Linked DNA regions of Homo sapiens: regions 2 and 3 are each linked to region 1. The links come from fine-mapping of genetic effects on gene expression. A gene starts in region 1. Each other region holds a variant in brackets. All regions are shown on one strand. Distances are between the middles of the regions. Region 1 holds the start of TRIP10 (thyroid hormone receptor interactor 10). Region 2 overlaps VAV1 (vav guanine nucleotide exchange factor 1). Region 3 has its middle 34 kb from the start of TNFSF14.

Evidence for each region. PIP is the estimated chance that this variant, and not a neighbour inherited with it, causes the effect.
Region 2: its variant is fine-mapped to the expression of TRIP10 in whole blood (TOPMed, PIP above 0.99).
Region 3: its variant is fine-mapped to the expression of TRIP10 in skeletal muscle (FUSION, PIP 0.95).

The regions. Positions count from the first base shown.
Region 1 is chr19:6,735,260-6,743,523 of GRCh38, reverse strand. TRIP10 (thyroid hormone receptor interactor 10) reads right to left here and starts at 3,844. Exons shown (of 15, transcript NM_001288962.2): 1 at 3,739-3,844; 2 at 2,399-2,514; 3 at 2,243-2,299; 4 at 410-557; 5 at 268-330; 6 at 1-30. The coding sequence starts at 3,762. It overlaps GPR108 (G protein-coupled receptor 108), which reads left to right and starts at 5,944. Exons shown (of 18, transcript NM_001080452.2): 1 at 5,944-6,067; 2 at 6,813-6,932; 3 at 7,566-7,616; 4 at 7,820-7,902. The coding sequence starts at 5,948. It overlaps MIR6791 (microRNA 6791), which reads left to right and starts at 6,746; the gene lies at 6,746-6,812. RefSeq lists enhancers at 1-752, 2,983-3,750, 4,200-4,329, 4,350-4,439, 4,519-5,287 and 3 more and silencers at 3,590-3,679, 3,720-3,999, 5,970-6,029, 6,130-6,299, 6,448-6,609 and 1 more.
Region 2 is chr19:6,797,959-6,805,958 of GRCh38, reverse strand. The region is part of intron 1 of VAV1 (vav guanine nucleotide exchange factor 1); the gene reads right to left. Among named protein-coding and RNA genes, the nearest start is that of VAV1, 29 kb to the right of the region's middle. RefSeq lists enhancers at 2,765-2,984, 3,867-3,936, 3,727-4,247. The variant G/A (reference allele first, on the strand shown) is at 3,399.
Region 3 is chr19:6,632,474-6,640,737 of GRCh38, reverse strand. No RefSeq gene overlaps it. Among named protein-coding and RNA genes, the nearest start is that of TNFSF14, 34 kb to the left of the region's middle. RefSeq lists an enhancer at 1,016-1,065. The variant A/G (reference allele first, on the strand shown) is at 4,967.

The DNA.
Region 1 (8,264 bases):
CCGGCAGTCCCGCTCAAATTTACGCTTACTCTGTGTAGGGGACAGAACCGGAGTGAGGGAGCCACCATCCCAAAGACAGCAGGGTGGGAAACCAAGGTTTCAGGGATTATTGGGATGTCATCCAGTAAGTAGGGGTCAAGGGAGTACTGGAAGCCTATGGGGGAGGGAAGGTCCAGGTCTGACAAAGAGGGCAGCTCCCTGACTCCGGATCCGCAACCCTGCCCCCATGCCTCCGGGCCACAGTCACTGCTACCTCTGCAAACTCACATTCTCCAGCTGTTTAAAGCCATTTTCCAGCTGCTGCTGGGCCCGCCGCCCTTCTTGGAAGTGCTACAGAAAGAAGAGTGATAAGGCTCGCCAGGGTTCCAGCAGAAGCCCTTTGTAAAACCTGAATCGGGGGGCTCCTCACCATCTTCCTCTCCTGTTTCATCTCTTGTGAGTACTTGGTCAGCTCAAGACATACACGGACACTGAGGTTCTCAGCCACCAGCTCCCGCTGGCCTGCAAAGTCATTCACCTCCTGGAGAATCTGTACGAAGGACTGTTGCTGGCTGAATCTGGGGTTGGATGAGAATCGGGGAACAGGGAGTCAGGCCCCTCCTCCCGAGCAGGCTGATGCCCCAGGACGCACCTCCAGGTGGAAAAGGGTTAAGCCCCAAGAATGTAATCCCTGAAGCGATGACAAATTCTGGTCCATATTCCTTAACCCCAACCCTTGAGTAGATTTTTTTTTTTTTTTTTTTTGAGACAGGGTCTTGCTGTCACCCAGGCTGCAGTGCAGCGGCATGATTGCGTCTCACTGCAGCCTCAAACTCCTGGGCTCAAGTGATCCTCCCACCTCAGGCTCCCAAATAGCTGGGACCACAGGCACACGCCACCACACCTGGCTAATTTTTTTTTTCCAGATGAGGTCTCAAACTCCAATCCCCCCGAACTCCGCATCTTCCCGCCTCACCCTCCCAAAGTGCTGGGAGTACAGGTGTGAGCCACCGCACTGGACCTCGAATGTATATTGGAACACAGAATTTTCCAGTTTTTAAAGATGGTGTACAAAGCTTATACCATCTTTTCTGCATCATCTTAGTGGGGTTGGGGACATCATTTTGTAATCAAACACCGTATCTATTTGTTTTGGAGACAGAGTCTCACTCTGTCGCCCAGGCTGGAGTGCAGTGGTGCGATCTTGGCTCACTGCAACCTCCGCCTCCCGGGTTCAAGCGATTCTCATGCCTCAGCCTCCTGAGTAGCTGGGATTACAGGCGCGCACCACAACGCCTGGCTAATTTTTGTATTTTTAGAAGAGACAAGGTTTCACCATGTTGACCAGGCTGCTCTCGAACTCCTGACCTCAAGTGATCCACCTGCGCACCCTCCCAATGTGTGGGATTACAGGTGTGAGCCACTGTGCCCAACCCTATTTTTTTTTTTAATTTTACAATGAGAGGTGTTAACATTCACACTAAGTGGGATAAAAGTCAAAACTACAATTACCAGCCTGGCTAACATGGTGAAACCCTGTCTCTACTAAAAATATAAAAATTAGCTGGGCATGGTGGCAGGTGACTGTAATCCCAGCTACTAGGGAGGCTGAGGCAGGAGAATCGCTTGAACCTGGGAGGCGGAAGTTGCAGTGAGCTGAGATGGCGCCACTGCACTCCAGCCTGGGGGACAGAGTGAAACTCTGTCAAAAACAAAACAAAACAACTACAATTAACAAAAAGTTCAGGTCAGAGATTGCTGCCAAACAAGTGACCAAAACAACTTGATTTCCAGGGCTTTTTTGGATTTTGGAATTGGGGACTCAATTCCAAGTCAAATGCTCCTTACGGCGTTTGATATGGACTGCACACTGTTTAAACACATTCACTCAGCTCGTGTTCATGAAAGCCCTACAAAGCTGGAGGAATCGTCATCATTCCATTTCACAGATGAGGAAAACAGAGGCGCAAAACTTTAAGTCATCTGCCCAAAGTTACTGGTTTTGTAACTGCTGGGGCCTCTGTATTTAACAGTTAAGGAAAATAGTGGCAGAAAACCTGAGTCACAAGCCCAAGTCAATTTCTCTACATAGTAGTGGACTCAGGATTCCAAGCCAGATAATCCCGCATCTTGCATCCATGCTCTCACCTCTAGAAGGGGAAGTGAGAGGAGCGGTGGGGTGTCCCAGCTGAGGGAGGGGAAGTGAGACCCAAGCACCGCCTTTCCCCACAAATCTAGCCCTGCAGCCCCTCTCCAACCTTACTTGGACTCAGGATCATCCTTGGCAGGTCTCTTGGGCAGATATTTTTTCACCAGGCTCCTAAGGGGAGACAGAGGTAGGAGGGCTGAGCCCGCAGCCCTCCCACCGCTCCCCGTCGCCCCAGGCGCGTCCTCCGTAGCGTCCACCCCAGGGTCTCACCGCAGTTGTTTGGCGTAAGCCTGTTCCACTTCGGTGCGTTCTTTCACGAACTTTACATATCTGTCCAACAGGTCCAGCCCCCACTGCGTGTGGCGCTCGAGCACCTCGAACTGATCCTGACATGGGACATGGTGGGGGAGGAGGGGAGAGGGGCCGGGGTCACGATTTTGGGACCCCACAGCCCGCCGACCAGACTCCCAGGGAGGGCCAAGGCTCTGCGCTCCTAGAAGGAGTGGCTTCCCGGCGCCGCCCCGGCGTGGCGCGGGGGGAGGCAGGAAACTGGCGGGAACCCCCTCCCCTTCCCGGGAAGGGCCGGAGAACAGCGCCCAGGCCCCAGCCACCCCGGCCGGGAGATGGAGGTCTCCGACATAGGACCGCCAAGAGGGGCGTGGAAGGGGACAGGGCCACTCCCCCAGCTCGGGCTCCCCTAATCCCCCCGGATTCCGGAAAATCCGGCCGGCCCGGCGTGAGTCAAGGCCAGAGGGGCAGGGTTCCTGGCAGACTGGGGGCCCCTGAGTGGCCAGGGGGCAGGCACCAGGTTCCCTGAATCTCCCTGCTTCCAGGGATCCCCCGATGGGTGACTCAATTTACCCCACTGACCCCACTACACATCCAAAAGAAATCGCAGAATTGGAGGAGGGGGTGGCAGTCTGGTTACCCCCGCTGCACTAAGAACTCAGGGATTCCACCGCCCCCAGCAAGGGGAGGGGTCAGAGGTCCGGCTAGGATAGGGGGAAATTTCTGGGGCTTCCAGGGCTGAGGTTATAGGCGACCAGGGGGCGGTCCCGCCCTGGGCCTGGGGTGAGCAGGGGGAAGCCAGGGAGGGGGATCAGGCCGAGCTTAGCATCCCCCTTCCCCTCCATGAGCGTCCCCAGCCCCTAGGTGTTGATTAAAGGCGAGGGAAAGGGCGGTCAGGACTTCTAGGTCCCACGTGGGTGGGGATGAGGGTGACCAGAGGGTCCCCTCCCCCCTCCTAGCCGGACAGGCGGACGACGGGCAGGGACCCAGGGGCCGTAAGATAAGCCGCCTGCCCGGCCAGGGCGCCCAAAATAGGTGACCTCTCTCAGCCGCCCCGGCCTGGCCCCAGGATTCCTTCTGCCCGCCTCATTCGCAACCCTGTGCCTCAGTTTCCCCACTCCGGTCCGGCAAAGTCGCCCTTCGCCCCTGAGCGTGCTGAGACTCCCAGATAAACTTCGAGAGAGAGCGGAGGGTGGAGGGCGGGGACCCAGGGGTCGGTGGAAGGGAAAGGCGCGGAGCCCCCTCTAAGATACATTGGGGACAAAAGGGGGGTGCCTGGACCCCAGCAAAGGGGAACTTAGAGGCGGGCCGATTGGACTTACCCACAGCTCAGTGCCCCAATCCATGCTGCTCCCGCCGCCGCCGCCGCAGCCACCACCGCACCCGGTCCCCGCCGCCCGCCGCCCGCCGCCCTCCCCGGGGAGACTCAGCCGAGGGCGGTGCGCCTGGCCCCGCCCCGCCCCGCCCGGCCCCGCCCACCCCAGACTCTTCCCCGCCCCCCTGCACGCTCTGCCACGCCCCCACCCGCGCGGAGCCCAAGCACTGCGATTCGGGGGCGGGGCCCAACGGACGCTCCGCCCCCTTTTAAAGCAACGTTGCCACTCGACGCCGCTGGACCGACCCCTTAAAGAACCCCCACCCATTTTTTCCAAATCCCCGGGGTCCCTCTCGTCCTCTCATCTTCCTTCCCCGCTCCAAACGGTTCTTCCCATCTCCTTTTCCCCTTTCCCCGCAATTATTCCTTAAAGGGCCAAGACACTAAAACCCCAAACTCAAGAAGTCCTTCCTCAACCCCATTGCAGGGGCAACCTGAGGTCACCCCGTTCTTGCGAGCCGGCCCGGCTCCAGGCGTCTAGGTTCGTCCCACTAATGGTCTGGTCCCTCCGGCCACAGGGCGGATGAGAGGGTTTCGATCCAACCCAGGACGCGCCTTCGCCAAGGCCAGGTCCATTAACTCCCGCACCGCATCCTGCCTTCCCTCCCCCAGAGTCTCCGCTGGGAAACTGAAGACAGGCCGTCCTTGGGGCGCCAGGCCCAGGCCTTTCCCCAGCTGCCTTCCAGTTCGCGCCTGCATCTGCCCATTTTCCAGTTTAACCTGGTTTCATTCTCAGTACTGCCCCTGAGATTCCGACTCCGCCCCTCCCCCAGACATCTGGGCCATCTGGGCCCTGGAGAAGGGAAGTCTGTCACCTCTCCCATAAAAGTCTGTTCACACCTTGTAAATCCCTTTGAGGTGCTGGAATGAAAGAGGAGAGGAGGCACTGGGGATTCCCACTCCCATTCTCTCCGGGCTTTGGCGCTTTCTCTGCAGCCTCAGACAAGGCTGGGCGTCTTGCAGGGGGGCCCTTGGGTATACGTTCCCCTTACACAGAGCACCCAGGCTCCCAGAACAGAGAGATACAGCTGAGCCCAGGAGGAGAGCCTTGGGAGCCCACACTGGGACTGATGTCTCTGCTGAGACCTGGCCCCACCTGCTGGTGGCTTCTGAGCTAGAAAATGTCTGATTGCAGTTGGGCAATTGAACCCAGTGAGTTCTGTGGCTAGTCTCAAATGGGGGCTCAGCCTAGCAAAGTTCTGAGTTCACCTCTGCTCAGAGACTCAAACTGGAATTGGGGTTCAGTCCAGGTCAGCACCACCGTGGGGATAGGGGATAGAGGCCAGAGGCTTAACCAGAAGGATTAGCAACCCGGTAAGGGGTCAGGTCCAATCTGGAGTCAGGGCTAGTCCAGATCGGTGGCCTAAACCAGAGATTAAGCCTCAGTGTGTGGTGTGGGGGACGAGGGGGTGTCAGAGTTTCAGGCTGAAGTTAGGACTCAACTTGCAGAGAGGGAGTTCACCTGGGGTCAGAGTTCAGCCCGGAGTCCGGTCTAGCCTGGAATCTGGGGGTGGGGCTCCAATTGCCTCACTCTGGAATAAAAGGCTTAGCCTAAGGCTGGGGTCTCAGCCTGGGGTCATAGGTCATCCTAGGGTCAAACTTTAACCTGAGGCCAGCTTTAGGCCTCTCTGTGGACCAGGAAGATTAGGAAAACAGGTCAGGCCTGAACAGATGCGTGTGTTTACCAAAAGCCTCAGCTCTGGCTGGGAGCCACATCCCTGGCTCAAGAAGAGGAAGTCCGTCCTTGGGGATACTGGGAAAGGTAGTTTATTTAATGCTTTGTGGCCCTTGTCTGCTCCCGCTGCATTCTGGGTAATGTAGTCCCGGACAGTTAAGAGTGGGTGGAGAAATTCCGCTTTAAGGGCCGGATATCAGATCCATGACAATTGGTTAGATAAACTGCTCATTAAATCACATCCGGACAATCTTTATAGCGATTGGTGAGAGTGAGCTGGGGGTTAAGCGTTATCGGCTCTCCCATTCGGAACCGGTGCTGTCCGTCGGTGACGCAAGCAGGCGGGCTTGCGGAGAGGCAATTGCTGATTGGTTGGCGGACTGGAAACTCCGAAAGGCCGGGCCCCGCCGTGCGGCGATTGGCTCATCGGTGGGCGGGCTTGGGCGCCAGAGGCGGAGTCGGGGAGGAGGTGGCTCCAGAGATGGCAGTGAGCGAGAGGAGGGGGCTCGGCCGCGGGAGCCCCGCGGAGTGGGGGCAGCGGCTACTTCTGGTGCTGCTGCTGGGTGGCTGCTCCGGGCGCATCCACCAGCTGGCGCTGACGGTGAGGCCCGCCGCGCGAGGGTCTGGGGTCGGTGGCGCAACTTTGTCTCGGAGAAGCCCCCTGGCTTGGAGTGGTCTCGTCCGCCCTCCCCCGTCCCCGAGGCGGTGGAGTGGTCCGGCGCCCCCCGTTTCCGGGCCCGGAGTGGTCTCGTCCCGGGATCCCCTTCGGTCCTCCGGATGGAGTTGCCGGGTCCGCCTCGCTGGGGTCGGCCCCCTCCCTTCGGGGGCGAGGCTCCATCTCTTGGGGACTACACCCCCCTTCCCCCCAACTGGGTCTTAGTCCTTTAAATTCTTGGAATCACTTTTGGGGCGCTAGAGACCCTGGAGCCGCACAGCGGGGTCCTGGGGGGCTATAGAGTGGGGTCCTCTGGGCACTTAATGGGATTTGGGGGGTTCTGTTGAAATATTGCTGGGAGCTCAACTGGAATGTAAAAGTTCTTCGGGAAGGTGAAGGTCAGGCACGCCGAGGTGAATAACTGTTCTCCGGGCGGTGCTCACCCCAGTGGGGAGACTTCCAGGTGCCGCAGGATCTCTGTTCCTGGGTTCTCAGAACAGAGGTCGGAGAATGCAGGACCACCCTTCCCCTGCAGGGAGGAAGTCCCTCTCAACTTTCTCTTGTCATCCTCTGGGCCTGTCCTAAATAGAGGGGTACCAGGAGGCCCTTCTGGAGGTCCTCGTGCCAGACCCCTGGGGCTGGGCAGGCGGAAAGAGGTCTGAACTGCCTCTGCCTCCTTGGTCTCCGGCAGGGGGAGAAGCGAGCGGACATCCAGCTGAACAGCTTCGGTTTCTACACCAATGGCTCTCTGGAGGTGGAGTTGAGCGTCCTGCGGCTGGGCCTCCGGGAGGCAGAAGAGAAGTCCCTGCTGGTGAGGGACCTTGAGGAGTTTGCTGGAGGAGAGCACGGTGCAATCCCCCGGTTCTGGGTTCCCAGCTCTGCCGCTACCCATGTGATCTTGTACAAGTCCCGTCATCTCTCTGAGCCTGTTTCGTCATCTGTACCTGGGAGTAATGATGTCTTACACAGGATGTGCTAGGCACTTTTCTTAAGACTTGGGGGACAGGCGGGGCGCGGTGGCTCAGGCTTTGTAGTCCTAGCACTTTGGGAGGCCAAGGTGGGAGGATTGCCTGAGGCCAGGAGTTCAAGACCAGCCTGGGCAACATAGTGAGAACCCCGTCTCTACAAAAAGTTTTTAAAATTAGCCGGGCGTGGTGAGGTGTGCCTGTAGTCCCAGCCAGTCGGGAGGCCGAGGTGAGAGGATCGTTTGAACCTGGGAGTTCGAGGCTGTAGTGAGCTATGATCCTGCCACTGTATTCCAGCTTGAGAAACAGAATGAGGTCCACCCACCACCCCAACTCTAAAAAAGAAAAAGAGCGTGTGGGATCTAGCACATGTTAGGTGTTCAGTAAATGTGAGGTTAGGTTTCTATTGCTACTGAAAGGGATAGCTGGGAGGTCTCTACTGTCCCTCACACCCTCCCCTTTTTTTTTCCACCCACCAGGTGGGGTTCAGTCTCAGCCGGGTTCGGTCTGGCAGAGTTCGCTCCTATTCAGTGAGTGGAGGGCATGGGGAAGACGGGAGAAGGGGCTGGAGGGAGGGGGTAGGGTCTGTCCTCTGCATCTGTAACCCAAGGGCCCCTGTTCTTTGTCAGAGGCAGGAGCAGGAAGATCCCGTGGGTGGACAGGGAGGGAGACAGGGTGGAGCTGGACCAGGAGAGGAGTAACCAAGACTCACTCCCTCCTGCCCACCCCCCAGACCCGGGATTTCCAGGACTGCCCTCTCCAGAAAAACAGTAGCAGTTTCCTGGTCCTGTTCCTCATCAACACCAAGGATCTGCAGTGAGTTGGGGACCGGGGGCTCGCTCAGATCCTTCGTCTGCGTTTCCCTGGTGTGATGCCCACACGCACCTGGGCTGATCAGGTGGGATGAGAAGCAGAGAGAGAAAGCCACTTACTTTTTAGTTTTGCCTTCAAGTCTTCTGATTGTTGGAAGGAAGGAGAGAGGGACTCCGCGGGTGTTGGTGTCTCAGGGCAGAAGACCCGGATACAGAGGGTTGTTGTGAGAATGAATAACAATTGTTCGCACATGTTGAGTGCTTCCGGTGTCCCGGAGCTTTAATACACTAACTCACCCATTCCTTATCCTGTGATCATCTCCGCTCTTCAGACAAGAAAACTGAGTCCCAGGAACTGGGATTCTG
Region 2 (8,000 bases), 63 kb before region 1:
AGACGGGAGGAAGTTGAGGGAATCAGCCCATAAACCCCTTTAGCATCCAAGACACTTCCATCAGGGCAGTCCAGAGACTCCAGGCTGATCTTCCTTCCTTCCTTCTTCCTTCCTTCCTTTCCTCCTCTCTTTTAGTTTCTTTTTTATTCATATAAATGAATAAATATTACTATATATAATATTCATATAGTGTGTGTGCATATATATATACACATATGTGTGAGCTGTATAATTATTTCATTATATATTACAATGTAATAATAATAGAAATAAAGTGAACAATAAATGTAATGTGGTTGATTCATCCTGAAACCATCCCCCCAACTCATGTGTGTGTGCGTGTATGTGTGTGTGTGTGTGTGTGTGTGTGTGTGTATCTGTAGAAATGAGGGTCTCACTATGTTGCCCAGGCTGGTCTCGAACCCCTGGGCTCAAGTGATCCTCCTGCCTCAGCCTCCTAAGGTCCTGGGATTACAGATGTGAGCCACCACAACTGGTCTATTTTCTTTGTTTTTGTTTTGTTTTGTTTTGTTTGAGATGGAGTCTTGCTCTGTGGCCCAGGCTAGAGTGCAGTATTATGATCTCAACTCGCTGCAACCTCCACCTCCCGGGTTCAAGCGATGCTCCTGCCTCAGCCTCCTGAGTAGCTGGGATCACAGGTGTGTGCCACCATACCCAGCTAATTTTTGTATTTTTAGTAGAGACGGGGTTTCACCATGTTGGCCAGGCTGGTCTCGAACTCCTGACTGTAGGTGATCCATCCGCCTCGGCCTCCCAAAGTGCTGGGATTACAGGCATGAACCGCTGCGCCCGGCCTTACCACCGCTTTTCATGGCAATTACCTGATCACCCAAAAGTTACTACCCCTTCCCTGGAAATTTCTGCATAAACTGCCCCTTACTCTACATGTAATTAAAAGGAGGTATGGGCCGGGGGGCGGTGGCTCACACCTGTAATCCCAGCACTTAGGGAGGCTGAGGCGGGTGGTTCACGCCTCAGGAAGGTCAGGCAATCGAGACCATCCTGGCTAACATGGTGAAAACTCATCTCTACTAAAAATACAAAAAATTAGCCGGGCATGGTGGCGGGCGCCTGTAGTCCCAGCTACTTGGGAGGCTGAAGCAGGAGAATGGCGTGAACGTGGGAGGCAGAGCTTGCAGTGAGCCAAGATTGCGCCACTGCACTCCAGCCTGTGCGACAGAGCAAGACTCCGTCTCAAAAAAAAAAAAAAAAGGAGGTATGGGAAGGGCACAGTGGTTCATGCCTGTAATCCCAGCACTTTGGGAGGCCAAGGCAGGCAGAACACCTGAGGTCGGAAATTTGAGACCAGCCTGGCCAACATGGCGAAACCTCATCTCTACTAAAAATACAAAAGTTAGTCAGGCGTGGTGGCACGCGCCTGTAATCCCAGCTACTCAGAAGGGTGAGGCAGGAGAATTGCTTGAACCTGGGAGGCAGAGGTTGCAATGAGCTGAGATTGCACTACTGCACTCCAGCCTGGGCGACAGAGCAAGACTCTGTCTCTAAATAAATAAATAAATAAATATAAATAGGACCGCCAAACTGCCCTGAGCTGCTACTCTCAGCCTGTGGGGTAGCCCTGCAAGAGCAGTCATGGAGCTGTAACACTGCCACGGCAATAAAGCTGTTTTCGTCTACCCTACCACTGGAATCACCCTTGAATTCTTTCCTTAGCCTGTGAGGCTTCTTGGGTGAAACCAAGAAGCCTCACAGGCTAAGCCCCACTTTGGGGCTTGCCTGCCGTGCGTCACATTCTCTGGATTTGGACACATGTATGATGATGGGTATCCACTATTATAGTGTCATAGAGAGTATTTTCACTGCCGTGGAAAGCTTCCATGCTCTGCCTATCCATACCCCCTTTCCACTAACCTCTGACAACTACTGATCTTTTTACTGCTTCTACAGTTTTGCCTTTTCTGAAACATCACATAGCTGGTATCATATAGTATGTAGCCTTTTGGGACTGGCTTCTTTCACTTAGTAATATGCATTTGGGGTTCCTGCGTGTCTCTTCATGGCTTGAGAGCTCATCTCATCTCTCTTCAGTGCTGAATAATATTCCATTGTCTGCGCTGGGAGCAGTGGCTCACACCTGTAATCTCAGCACTTTGGGAGGCCGACGTGGCTGGATCACCTGAGGTCAGGAGTTTGAGGCCAGCCTGGCCAACATGGTGAAATCCCATCTCTACTAAAAATACAAAAATTAGCCAGGTGTGGTGGCAGGTGCCAGTAAACCCAGCTACTCAGGAGGCTGAGGCAGGAGAACAGCTTGGACCTGGGAAGCAGAGGTTGCAGTGAGCCGAGACCACACCATTGCACTCTAGCCTGGACAACAAGGGCAAAAGTCCATCTCTAATAATAATAATAATATTCCATTGTCTGGATGCACCACAGCTTATTTATCCATACGAGGAAGTAGGTGGAACTTGACTCTGGAGGTGGGGCTCAGACAACGGACCAAATTGAGGACTAGCTAAAACAGGGCTGGAGCAGAAGCACCTTTCCATAAGACATGCCCACCAGTGTGCCATGGCAGTTTGCCATTGTGATGGTAACACCAGCAGCTACTACTCCTTTCCCAAGGCAATGACCCGACAACCCAGAAGTTACCACCCTTTTCCTAGAAATTTGCATAATCTGCCCTTTAATTTGCATATAATTAAAGTGGGTACAAAGATGACTGCAACCCTGATTACTCCGGGCTCACAGCCTGTGGGGTAGCCCTGCTCTGCGAGGAGCAGGACTTCTGCAACTGCCGCTATGCACTTTCACTTCAGTAAAAGCTACTGTCTAACACCTCCAGCTCGCCCTGGAATTCTTTCCTGGGCAAAACAAAGAACCGTCCCAGGCTGAGCCCCAATTTAGGGCTTGCCTTGCCCTACATCGCATTCATCTACCGAAGGACAATTTGTTGCCTCCCAGTTTCAGCAATCATGAATAAAGCCGCTACAAAGACTTGAGTGTAAGTTTTTGTGTGGACATAAATGTTCAACTCCTTTGGGTAAATAGAGGACCTCAATACCTAGTACCATGTCTGACACATAGTAGATGCTCAATAAAATCTGTCGAATGAATAAATCTCCCTTTGACAGAGGAAACAACTGAGGCTCAGAGAGGGGATACTGCCCATCCCGGACCACACAGATAGGAATGGAGAACCAGATACCAGCACTGGATCCCAAAGTCTGTGCCTCTAACCTCTGTACAACACTGCCTCTTTGAACCACACTAAGCTGCTCCTGGTGCCTCTTAGAGAGTGGCATAATGAGGGCGCTCATGGGCAGGCAGATCACCAGAGACAATAGAGCAGATGGCTGTGTCTGTGGCTCGAGGGAGGAAGTTCCCTCCTGACCTCAGGGAGATCAGCTGAACCC[G/A]GAGACAGCTTCCTTCCAGTCATGTGATGCCTCAAAGAGGGGAAAGGGGGCATGATTCATCCCCTCTCCGGGCTGCGGTGGGGCCAGCTAAAGAAAGGGGCTCCATCAGACAGCAGCAGTGACTGCAGTTAGACCACCAGAAAGGACTTCCTGGTCGCCTGAAGAGTGTGAGAAAGTGGCAAAGGACAGGAGGTCCTTTATTTTTTTTAATTTTATTATTATTATACTTTAAATTTTAGGGTACATGTGCACAACGTGCAGGTTTGTTACATATGTATACATGTGTCATGTTGGTGTGCTGCACCCATTAACTCCTCATTTAGCATTAGGTATATCTCCTAATGTTATCCCTCCCCACTTCCCCGACCCCACAACAGTCCCCTGTGTGTGATGTTCCCCTTCCTGTGCCCATGTGTTCTCATTGTTCAATTCCCACCTATAAGTGAGAACATGCGGTGTTTGGTTTTTTGTCCTTGCTATAGTTTGCTGAGAATGATGGTCCTTTAAACAAACGTAGGAGAGGCATTATGAGGACGGTTCCTCCCTGCTGGGGGCAACCCCCCTCAGTGCCCCTCTTCCTTCCTCCAGGAAGAGGCGGGCACCCACTGTGCTGGCATCGTGCCCATATGCAAATCAGCACCCAGGCGCACTGCGGTGAACCCTGAGGTTCATTCTTCCCCATTTGCCAGCCAGCCTCCCATCAACAAAACCCCTGCCCAAGATGAAGAAAGAGCCAGAAAGGTCGGCTGGCTTTCCACGCTCCTTCGGGGAAGCAGTGTGCAGGGACAGAGGCCTCTGGGGTCTGGGAGAAGGGGACCCAGAGCCAAGCACGACGGCAGCAATCAACTCCCCACCCCCACCCCAGCACCAGGGAGCCGGCCGGAAACCGGAAATGCCTGTTACCAGGGCTTGGTTGGGGAGATAGAAAAAAGGGTGGGTGGAGGGGCCCTTTGCGTTCAACCCATCAGCCCCTTCATCAGGCAACCTCAAGCTCCCGAGGGTTCCCAGAGAGGGCGGGTGTGCTGTGCACCCTTTCAAAGCTCCGAAGCAGGGGTGCAGAGTGTGCACGCCTCATCCTAGCCCTCAAACCCTTCTGTGAGGAAGCCCGTCTCTCTTCTGCCCCATCCCCTACCACCCCAGCACACACTCCACTTTTCAGCACCGGTGGGAGGGTCAGGCAGATCTGGTTCGACTCCCAGACCAGCCCGGCAAGTTGAGGGAGCTTGGATGGGATCATTTTGCTTTCCGTTGATTCAATTGACTCATCTGTACGTCGGGAATGAAAATACTTGACCCAATGTTTGCGGTAGAGCCTGGTGTGAAACCCAGCACCCCAGACCCGGTCATGCATTAATTCAGCAAGCATGTGTGGAATGCCTACTGTATGCCAAGCACCAGAACCTAATGGTGATCAAGACAAACAGAGCTCTGCCCTTACAGGGCTTATGTAATCCAGCCAGGAGACAAACACTAAGCAGTCAGCAAGGTGAATAATTGATGATGAGGGTGGTGAGAGGGTGTGCCGGGAAGCACAGAGAGCTATGGGACCTGGTTAAATGCAGGAGGCACCTGGTAAGGCTTTGGGGTGGTACAGGAGAGAATGGTGCCATGCAGGCGACAAAGAGATGGTGAGCGGCTGGGTGCGGTGGCTCACGCCTGTAATCCCAGCACTTTGGGAGGCTGAGGCGGGCGGATCACTTGAGGTCAGGGGTTCAAGACCAGCCTGGGCAACATGGTGAAACCCCGACTGCACACACACACACACACAAAAATTTGCCAGGCGTGGTGACAGGCGCCTGTAATCCCAGCTACTCTGGAGGCTGAGGCAGGAGAATCGCTTGAACCCAGGAGGCGGAGGTGGCAGTGAGCCGAGATCACGCCACTGCACAGCCTGGGCAACAGACCGAGGATGTCTCAAAAAAACAAAAAACAAAACAAAACAAAAAAAAGAAGCTGGGTGTGGTGGCTCATGCCTGTAATCCCAGCACTTTGGGACGCTGAGGTGGGTTGATCACTTGAGGTCAGGAGTTTGAGACGCGCCTGGCCAACATATAGTGAAACCTGTCTCTGCTAAAAATACAAAATTAGCTGGGTGTGGTGGAACACGCCTGTAGTCCCAGCTACTTGGAAAGCAGAGGAAGGAGAATCGCTTGAACCCAGGAGGCAGAGGTTGCAGTGAGCCGAGATCATGCCACTGCACTCCAGCCTGGGCAACAGAGCAAGACCCCATCTCAAAAAAAAAAAATGAGACAGATAGTGAAGCAAAGAAGAGAAGCATGCTGAGCAGCTGGCAGGAACATCACATGGCAGATCCACTTTGGAAAAGTTGGTACGTTTTCCTTGTTATTACTATTATTTTTTTACCTTGCAATTCCAGCACAAAGGAAGAAAAGTTGGTACATTTTCTTCTTATTAAAAAAAAAAATTAAGAAACAGAGCCTCACTATGTCGGTCAGGTTGGTCTCAAACTCCTAGGCTCCAGCAATCCTCCCGCCTCAGTTCCCCAAAGTGCTGGAATGACAGGCATGAGCCGCCGTGACTGGCCTGGTAAGTTTTCTTAAAACATTAAGCATGCACCTATCATACGATATATTCCATTACCAGGCATTTACTCAAGAGAAATGAAAGCACATGTCCATACAAAGACTTGTACAGAATGTTCATAGCAGCTTGATTCTGTTTTCTTTTCTTTCCTTTTTTTTTTTTTTTTTTTTTTGAGACAGTCTCAGTCTGTCACCCAGGCTGGAGTGCAGCCTGGCCCAATCACAGCTCACTGCAGTCTCAAATTCCTGGGCTCAAGCAATCCTCCTGCCTCAGCCTTCCAAAGAGTTAGGACTACAGGCATGTGCCACCATATCCAGCTAGCAACTTGATTCATGATAGCCAAAAGTGCCATCAGTAATTCAAACCTCAACCAAGGGGAACATCACACACTGGGGCCTGTCGGGGGCTGGGGGTTAGGAGAGGGATAGCATTCGGAGAAATACCTAATGTAGATGATGGGTTGATGGATGCAGCAAACCACCATGGCACGTGTATACCTATGTAACAAACCTGCACGTTCTGCACATGTATCCCAGAACTTAAAGTATAGGCCGGGCATGGTGGCTCACGCCTGTAATCCCAGCACTTTGGGAGGCCGAGGTGGGCAGATTATGAGGTCAGGAGTTCGAGACCAGCCTGGTCAACATGGTGAAACCCTGTCTTTACTAAAAATACAAAAAAATTAGCCAGGCGTGGTGGCGCACACCTGTAGTCCCAGCTGTTCGAGAGGCTGAGGCAGAAGAATCGCTTGAACCTGGGAGGCGGAGGTTGCAGTGAGCCGAGATTGCGCCACTGCACTCCAGCCTGGGCGACAGAGCGAGACTCCATCTCAAAAAAACAAAGCGAAACAAACAAAAAAACCTCCATCAAGGGATGAATGGATAAACAAACTGGGGTGCATCCGTACAACAGAATGGTACACTGATACATACAACAACATGGATGAACCAGGACATCATGCTCAGGGAAAGCAGCCAGTCACAGAAGACCACAGATGGTACCATTCCACTTACATAAAACTCCAGGAAATACAAACTAATCGACAGTGACTAACAGCAAATCAGGAGGTACGAGGGAATGAGAGGTGGGAGGAGGGGGAGGCAGGGAGGGGTGGGATGGAGGAAACTTTGAGGGGCAATGGATATGATCCATTGATTTCAAGGCTGGGTTCATAGTTGCACACATATGTCAAAATTTATCAAATCAGGCCAGGTTCAGTGGCACACACCTGTAATCCCAGCTACTCAGGAGGCTAGGGTAGGAGGATCGCTTGAGTCCAGGAGTTCAAGGCCAGTCTGGGCAACATAGGGAGACCCTGATTCTTTCTTTTTTCCCCCTTCTTTTGGGTGGGGGGGGGAAGGGGAGAAACAGGGTCTCACTCTGTCACCCAGACTGGAGTGCAGTGGTGCAATCCTGGCTCACTGCAGCCTCGACTTCCTGGGTTCAAATGATCCTCCCATCTCAGCCTCCCAAGTAGCTGGGACTACAGGCACATGCCACTATGACCAGCTAATTATTTTATTTATTTATTTATTTATTTATTATTTATTAGAGATGAGGCTGGTCTCACCATGTTGCCCAGGCTGATCTCGATCTCCTAAACTCAAGCAATCCTCCCACACCAGCTTCCCAAAGGGGCGAGATTACAGGCTTCAGGCACCATGCCCTGCCAAGACCGTTTCTGAAAACAAATCTAGAAATTAAAGAAAAAATTGTTTACCAAATCATATATTTTTTTTTGAGACAGAGTCTCACTCTGTTGCCCAGGCTGGAGTGCAATGATGCGATCTCCGCTCACTGCAACCTCCGCCTCCCAGGTTCAAGCGATTCTCCTGCCTCCACCTCCTGAGTAGCTGGGATTATAGGTGCGTGCCACCATGCCTGGCTAATTTCTGTATTTTTAGTACAGACAGGGTCTCACCATGTTGGCTAGGCTGGTCTTGAACTCCTGGCCTCAAGTGATTTGCCCACCTCGGCCTCCCAAAGTGCTGGGATTACAGCGTGAGCCACCGCGCCCCACCAATGTATTTTAAATATGTAATTTACTGTATGTCAATA
Region 3 (8,264 bases), 100 kb after region 1:
TTGTTTTTGGCTGGAGTGCAGTGTCACGATCTCGGCTCACTGCAACCTCTGCCTCCTGGGTTCAAGCGATTCTCCTGTCTCAGCCACCCGAGTAGCTGGGGTTACAGGTGCCCCCCATCACGTCCAGCTAAGTTTTGTATTTTTAGTAGAGATGGGGTTTCACTATGTTGGCCAAGCTGGTCTCCAACTCCTGGCCTCAGGTGATTCGCCCAACTGAGCCTCCCAAAGTGCTGGGATTACAGGAGTGAGCCATGGCGCCCGGCCCAGATTCATTTGTTTTATAAGGAGACTCACTGCATTTGAGGACAGCTACTTAGGATTCTTGGTCTCTATGCCAGCCAGAAAATGAAGGTTGGTGGGATGAGCCACAGTTTACACTGCAGGAGTGGAGTCTAGCAGCCCCCGTGAGTGTTCACCCTCTCCCTCTCCCACTGTCCCTTCTAGAGTCCCTTCATCTTCAGGTGGCCCTTCTGTTGGTGTAGGTGGCTCACCTGGTGGGGTCACCTAGATCCTCATCCCTGAGGGATCTGAGACCTTGCTCACCATGTCTTTAGGCCCTTAAGGGCGACATTAATCTCTGCTATTCCACTGTGATGCAACCTTGCATTTGTTTTTGTTTTTGTTTGTGTTTGTGCTTTTGCTTTTGCTTTTTTTGAGACAGAGTCTCACTCTGCAGCCCAGGCTGGAGTGCAGTGGCACAGTCTTGGCTCACTGCAACCTCCGGCTTCCAGGTTCAAGTGACCCACCTGCCTCAGCCTCCCTAGTAGCTGGGTCCACAGGCACGTGCCGCCACGCCCGGCTAATTTTTGTATTTTTAGTAGAGTCGGGGTTTCACCATGTTGGCCAGGCTGGTCTCGAGCTCCTGGCCTCAGGTGATCCACCTGCCTTGGCCTCCCAAGGTGCTGGGATTACAGGCATGAGCCACCGTGCCTGGCCCAACCTTGCATTGATTTACTGTCTTGGTCAGTGAGAGGTGACAAGGAAAGTGATTTTAGAGGTCTCCATTGGTCTTATCCACAGGAAAAGTTTGCTGACACCTCATCTACTGAGTCATTTCCACATGCTCAGTGCTTAACCCAGATCATCTTAACCCCTGCGATGTTGATACTATGATTGTCCCCTAACTACAGATGAGCTAACGGAGGCACGAGGGAGTGAGGTCACCAGTGCAAGGTTCTTCAGCTAGGAAGTGGTAGATCCTTCTGGTTTCAGAGCCCTTGCCCTAACCCACTCACCTATATCTTCTGGGTGGATATATGGGCTGGTATCAGCCTATGCATAGACCCCATTTTATTATCTGCTCTCCTACTGATGGACACGTAGCCTGCTTCACAGTGTTATACGCAATGCAGTGATGAACATCCAATTGAGTGTCTTTCTATGCAGGTGGGCCCCCGTCACAGGTGCTGGGTGAGCTCAGATGAGGGTTTGGAGAAGGGTTTTGAGCCTTTGGGTGTTGACCTTTATCATCTCAGGATTTCAAATCCAGCCCTTTGCACCTGCTTCCCTTCATCTCCCATCTTTTCTTTGTTGTTGTTGTTGTTTGTTTATTTATTATTTTTTTTAAGATAAGAGTTTCTCTGTGTCGCCCAGGCTGGAGCACAGTGGTGCAATCTTGGCTCACTGCAACCTCTGTCTCCCAGGTTCAAGTGATTCTCCTGCCTCAGCCTCCCGAGTAGCTAGGATTACAGGCATGTGCCACCACACCGGGCTCATTTTGTATTTTTAGTAGAGACAGGGTTTCTCAGTGTTGGTCAGGCTGGTCTCGAACTCCCGACCTCAGGAGACCCTCCTGCCTTGGCCTCCCAAAGTACTGGGATTACAGGCTTGAGCCACTGTGCCCAGCTGTTTGCTTTTTTTTTTTTTTTTTTTTTTTTTTTAGATAGGGTTTCTGTTGCCCAGGCTGGAGTGTGGTGGTGCAACCTTGACTCATTGCAATCTCCGCCTCCCAGGTTCAAGTGATTCTCCTGCCTCAGCCTCCCGAGTAGCTGGGATTACAGGTGCCCAGCACCACGTCTAGCTAATTTTTGTATTTTTGGCAGAGATGGGGTTTTGTCATGTTGGGCAGGCTGGTCTCGAACTCCTTTCCTCAAGTGATCCGCCTGCCTCGGCCTCCCAAAGTGCTGGGATTACAGGCGAGAGCCACCGCGCCCGGCCCTCCCACGCTTTCTTCTCCATGTTCCTCTTTACGCTGCCCTCACCCCACTTCAGGACACTCTTACCAAAACTTGGCCCTGAGAACTGAATTGCCACAGTTTAGGGGCTCCTGTATCACTCTGGTCAAGTCCCTTCACCTCACTAAGCCTCAGTTTCCCCAGCTGTACAATACAGAAAAAAAATAGCTCATTCCTCACTAAGTCACTGGGAAGATTCAAAGAGATCCTGCATGGAAGGATAGTGATTTTAAAATAATTTAAGATTTTTTTTTCCATTCTTCCTTCTGATCCAGATCTCCACTCTGTCAGTTACTGGTTGGGTGACCTTAAGTGGCTGACTTAACCTTGCTGTGCCTCAGTTTCCTCACCTGTAAAAAGTGATAAAAGCATCCCCACTATGTCATAACTCATATTTCCCCCTACTATCTGGGTATCGTTAAAACAGCACAAGTGCTTAGGGTTTTTTTGTTTGTTTTTTTGTTTTTGTTGTTGTTGTTTTTTTGAGATGGAATTTTGCTCTTGTTGCCCAGGCTGGAGTGCAATGGCACAACCTCGGCTCACCGCAACCTCTGCCTCTCGGGTTCAAGTGATTCTCCTGCCTCAGCCTCCGGAGTAGCTGGGATTACAGGCATGTACCACCACACCCGGCTAATTTTTTGTATTTTTAGTAGAGATGGGGTTTCTCCATGTTGGTCAGGCTGGTCTCGAACTCCTGACCTCAGGTGATCCGTCCGCCTCGGCCTCCCAAAGTGCTGGGATTACAGGCATGAGCGACCACACCCGACCCACATGTGCTTAGTTTAGCAGTTCTTGGCACAAACTAGATGCTCAATAAATAATGGCCACTAGCTAGGCATGGTGGCACCTGCCTGTAATCCCAGCACTTTGGGAGGCAGAGGCGGGTGAATTGCTTGAGCTCAGGAGTTCAAGAGCAGCCTGGGCAACATAACGAGACCTTGTCTCTACAAAAAATAAAACTAAAAAATTAGCCAGGCATGGTGGCACCTGCCTGTGGTACCGGCTACTCGGGAGGCTGAGGTGGGAGGATCACCTGAGCCTGGGGAAGTTGAGACTGAAGTGAGCTGTGATCGCACCACTGCACTCCAGCCTGGGCAACAAAGAAAGACCTTGTCTCAAAAAATAAATAAAATTTAATTTAAAATTATTTTTAAAGCCAGGTACGGTGGCTCACACCTGTAATCCCAGCAATTTGGGAGGCCGAGGGAGGTGGATCACTTGGAGTCAGGAGTTCGAGACCAACCTGGCCAACATGGTGAAACCCTATCTCTACTAAAAATACAAAAATTAGTCGGGTGGTGGAGGGCGTCTGTAATCCCAGCTACTCCATAGACTGAGGCAGAAAATTGCTTGAATCCGGGAGGCAGAGGTTGCAGTGAACCAAGATTGCACCACTGCACTCCAGCCTGGGTGACATACTGAGACTCTGTCTCAAAAAATAAATTAATTAATTAATTTAATTTTTTTTTTTTGAGACAGAGTCTCACACTATTCCCCAGGGTTGGAGTGCAATGGCATAATCTCGGCTCACTGCAACCTCTGCCTCCCGGGTTCAAGTGATTCTCCTGCCTCAGCCTCCTGAGTAGCTGGGATTACAGATGCCCACCACCACGCCTGGCTTATTTTTTGTATTTTTTAGTAGAAACGGGGTTTCACTATGTTGGCCAGGCTGGTCTTGAACTCCTGACCCTGTGATCACCCCATCTCGGCCTCCCAAAGTGCTGAGATTACAGGCATGAGCCATTGCGCCCGGCCAATAAATTTAAATTTTAAAAAGTAAGGCCGGGCACGGTGGCTCACACCTGTAATCCCACCACTTTGGGAGGCCGAGATGGGCGGATCACGAGGTCAGGAGATCGAGACCATCCTGGCTAACACGGTGAAACCCCGTCTCCACTAAAAGTACAAAAAATTAGCTGGGCGTGGTGGCGGGCGCCTGTAGTCCCAGCTACTCGGGAGGCTGAGGCAGGAGAATGGCGTGAACCCGGGAGGCGGAGCTTGCAGTGAGCCGAGATCGCGCCACTGCCCTCCAGCCTGGGCGACAGAGCAAGGTTCCATCTCAAAAAAAAAAAAAAAAAAGTTGAAGGAAGGAAGGAGGGAAGGAAGGAAGGAATGAGAGAGAGGGAGGGAGGGAGAGAGGGAGGGAGGGAGGGACGGAAGGAAAGGAGAGGGAAGGAGGGAGGAAGGGAGGGAGAAAGGGAGGCAGCATATTTTTCCTTCCAGCAGAGGGGAAAAAACATGTTTCTCCTTCCCCTACAGCTGAAAAAAACAATTATTCTGCACCATGAAACTAGACTTGCAAATATTCTTTTATAGAAGAAGATTTGTATATTCTATACACCTGAACTTCACAGTCAGATGGTGTGTTCTGGTAAAGTAACTGTCAGTCTCTGAAATCTCTATAATTCTGCTTGATTTTCTTTATTTGTTGCCCTGGAAACACCATTGAAACTAAAATCTCTGTTTCTAAGAAAAGGCAGCAGGGCGCTGTGGCTCAAGCCTGTAATCCCAGCACTTTGGAAGGCTGAGGCAGGCAGATCACCTGAGGTCAGGAGTTCGAGACCAGCCTGACCAACATGGGGAAACACCATCTCTACTAAAAATACAAAATGAGCCGGGCATGGTGGCGGGCGCCTGTAATCCTAGCTACTCGGGAGGCTGAGGCAGGAGAATCACTTGAACCCGGGAGGCGGAGGCTGTGGTGAGCAGAGATCGCACCATTGCTCTCCAGCCTGGGCGACAGAGCGAGACTCTGTCTCAAAAAATAAAATAAAAAACTGCAAATACTTGTC[A/G]GTTTTGATTTCTAAGCCTCAGCTCTGTGGATATTTGGAGCCAGATTGTCCTCTTGGGTGGAGCCATCTGGGCACTGCAAGGTGCTGAGGAGTGTCTCAGGATCCTGCCTCCATGCCAGGATCACCCCCAGTTGTAACAACCAAAAATGTCTCCAGATGTTGCCAAATGTTTCCTGGAAGGACAGAATCACCCCAGTTGAGAACCACTGAATTCGATGATAAACACAGGCACATTTTTTGCCTATTTAAAGAGTCTGAAAGGCTCTGCTTCATTTAAATTAAGATTCCAAGCTGGATGCGGTGGCTCACGCCTGTAATCCCAGCACTTTGAGAGGCCAAGGCAGGGGAGTCACCTGAGGTCAGGAGTTCGAGACCAGCCTGGCCAAAATGGAGAATCCCTGTCTCTACTAAAAATACAAAAACTATTCAGGCATGGTGGTGCGTGCCTGTAATCCCAGCTACTCAGGAGGCTGAGGCAGGAGAATTACTTAAACCCGGGAGGTGGAGGCTGCAGTGAGCCGAGATCACACCATTGCACTCCAGCCTGGGCCACATAGCGAGACTCTCTCAAAAAAATAAAAATTAAAAATAAAAATAAATTAAGAAACTAGATACTGTCCTAATTACATTTTTATTCCTCCTCTGATCCTCCATGAGTAACTTAGAGAGAGTATATGATATCAATTCCTTTGATAGCGATGTGATTTATCACTCAGTATAAGGCCAAGCTTTGGAAATATTCCCTAAGCATTTAAAAATGCATCTATTTTTAATTATGGTAACATGTATAACATAAAATTTACCTGTAATCCCAGCACTTTGGGAGGCCAATGTGGGTGGATCGCCTGAGGTCAGAAGTTCGAGACCAGCCTGGCCAACATGGCGAAACCCCGTCTCTTCTAAAAATACAAAAATTTACCATTTTAACAATTTTAAGTGTACTCTTCACTGATATGAAGTATATTCACATTGTTGTGCAACCATTACCACCGTCCATCTCCAGAAAGTTTTTCATCTTGCAAAACTGAAACTCTGTGCTCATTAAACACTCACACTCACTCGCCATTCCCTCCTCCCCAGCCCCTGACACCCACCTTTCTCCTTTCTGTCTCTATAAATTTGCTCCATCATTTCCTCATATAAGTGGAATCATAACAGTATTTGCCCTTTTGCAGCTGGCTCATTTCATTTAGAATAATGTCTTCAAGTTTCATCCATGTTGTAGGATATATTAAAACTTCATTCTTCTTCAGGGCGGAATAATATTCCATTATATGGATATACCACATTTTGTTTATGCATTCATCCATCAGTAGACACTGGGGTTGCTTCTGTATCTTGGTTACTGTGAATACTACTCCTATGGCCACAGACGTAACAATATCTGTTCTCATCCCTGCTCTCAATTCTGTTGGGTATGTACATAGAAGTAGAATTGCTGGATCATAGTAATTCTATTCTAATGTTTGGAGGAAGTGCCATACTGTTTTCCATAGCAGCTGCACAATTTACATTCCTACCAGATCCTTAAGTGTTTCTTTTTTTTTTTTTTTTTTTTTTTTTTTGAGATGAAGTCTTGCTCTGTTGCCCAGGATGGAGTGCAATGGTGCCATCTCGGCTCACTGCAAACTCCGCCTCCTGGGTTCAAGCGATTCTCCTGCCTCAGCCTCCCGAGTAGCTGGGATTACAGGCACCTGCCACCACGCCAGGCTAATTTCATATTTTTAGTAGAGACGGGGTTTCACCATGTTGGTCAGGCTTGTCTCAAACTCCTGACCTCAAGTGATCCACCTGCCTCAGCCTCCCAAAGTGCTGGGATTACAGTCATGAGCCACCATGCCGGGCCACTAAGCATTTCTTAATGTGTTTCTTTGTTTGTTTGTTGTTGTTGTTTGTTTGTATGTTTGTTTGAGATGGAGTCTCCCTCTGTCATCCAGGCTGGAGTGCAGTGACTCGATCTCAGCTCACTGCAACCTCCACCTCCCAGGTTCAAGAGATTCTCCTGCCTCAGCCTCCCAAGTAGCTGGTATTACAGGTGCCCGCCACCACACCCTGTGGGCAGCAAGCCACACAGGTGCCGAGGCAAGAGACCGAGGGCACGAGCTGTTCCAGTATAATAAAGAAAATACATAAAATAAGAATACTTATACTAGACATAGATCATGGATATGATTATATATGAATATCATTAATTATTAGTTTGTAGCAATTACTCTTTATTCCAATATTATAATAATCCTTGCTCTACAATCATAACCTAGGAAAAACCAGGCCATACAGAGATAGGAGCTGAAGGGACATGGTGAGAAGTGACCAGTAGATAAGAGTGCGAGCCCTCTGTCACGCCCGGACAGGGCCACTAGAGGGCTCCTTGGTCTAGGGGTAACGCCAGCATCTGGGAAGACGCCCGTTGCCAAGTGGCCCGTGGTCTAGCGGTAGCGTCAGTGCCAAGGGAAAACACGGGCTACTTAGCAGACTCGAGGCCAGGAGTTTAGAGAAGACTCTGCTCCTCCACCTCTTGTGGAGGACCTGACATTAGTCAGGCTCGCCCGCAGTTATCCGGAGGCCTAACTGTCTCCCTGTGATGCTGTGCTTCAGCAGTCACACTCCTGGTCCGCTTTCATGTTCCATACTGTACACCTGGCTCTGCCTTCTAGATAGCAGTAGCAAAATTAGTGAAAGTACTAAAAGTCTCTGATATGATATGCAGAAATAATGGCGTAAGCTGTCTCCTCTCTCTCTCTCTCCGCCTCGGCTGCCAAACAGGGAAGGGCCCCCTGTCCAGTGGACACGTGACTCATGTGACCTTACCTATCATTGGAGATGGCTCACGCTTCTTACCCTGCCTCCTTGTCTTGTATCCAATAAATAACAGTGCAGCCTGGCATTCGGGGCCACTACCGGTCTCTGCGTCTTGGTGGCAGTGGTTCCCCGGGCCCAGCTGTCTTCTTTTATCTCTTTGTCTTGTGTCTTTATTTCTACGATCTCTCATCTCCTCACACACACAGGGAGAAAAACCCACCGACCCTGTGGGGCTGGTCCCTACATACCCTGGCTAATTTTTGTATTTTTAGTAGAGACCGCGTTTCACTATGTTGGCCAGGCTGGTCTCAAACTCCAGACCTCAAGTAGTCCACCTGCCTCGGCCCCTCAAAATGCTGGGATGACAGGCGTGAGCCGCCGCGCCTGGCCACAACAGGACATTTCAGTTCAGATCCACATTCCAAGTGCCATATAGTAACATATGGCTATTGACATGGAATAGCATGGTATTGAGTAGCACAGATTTGGACCATCT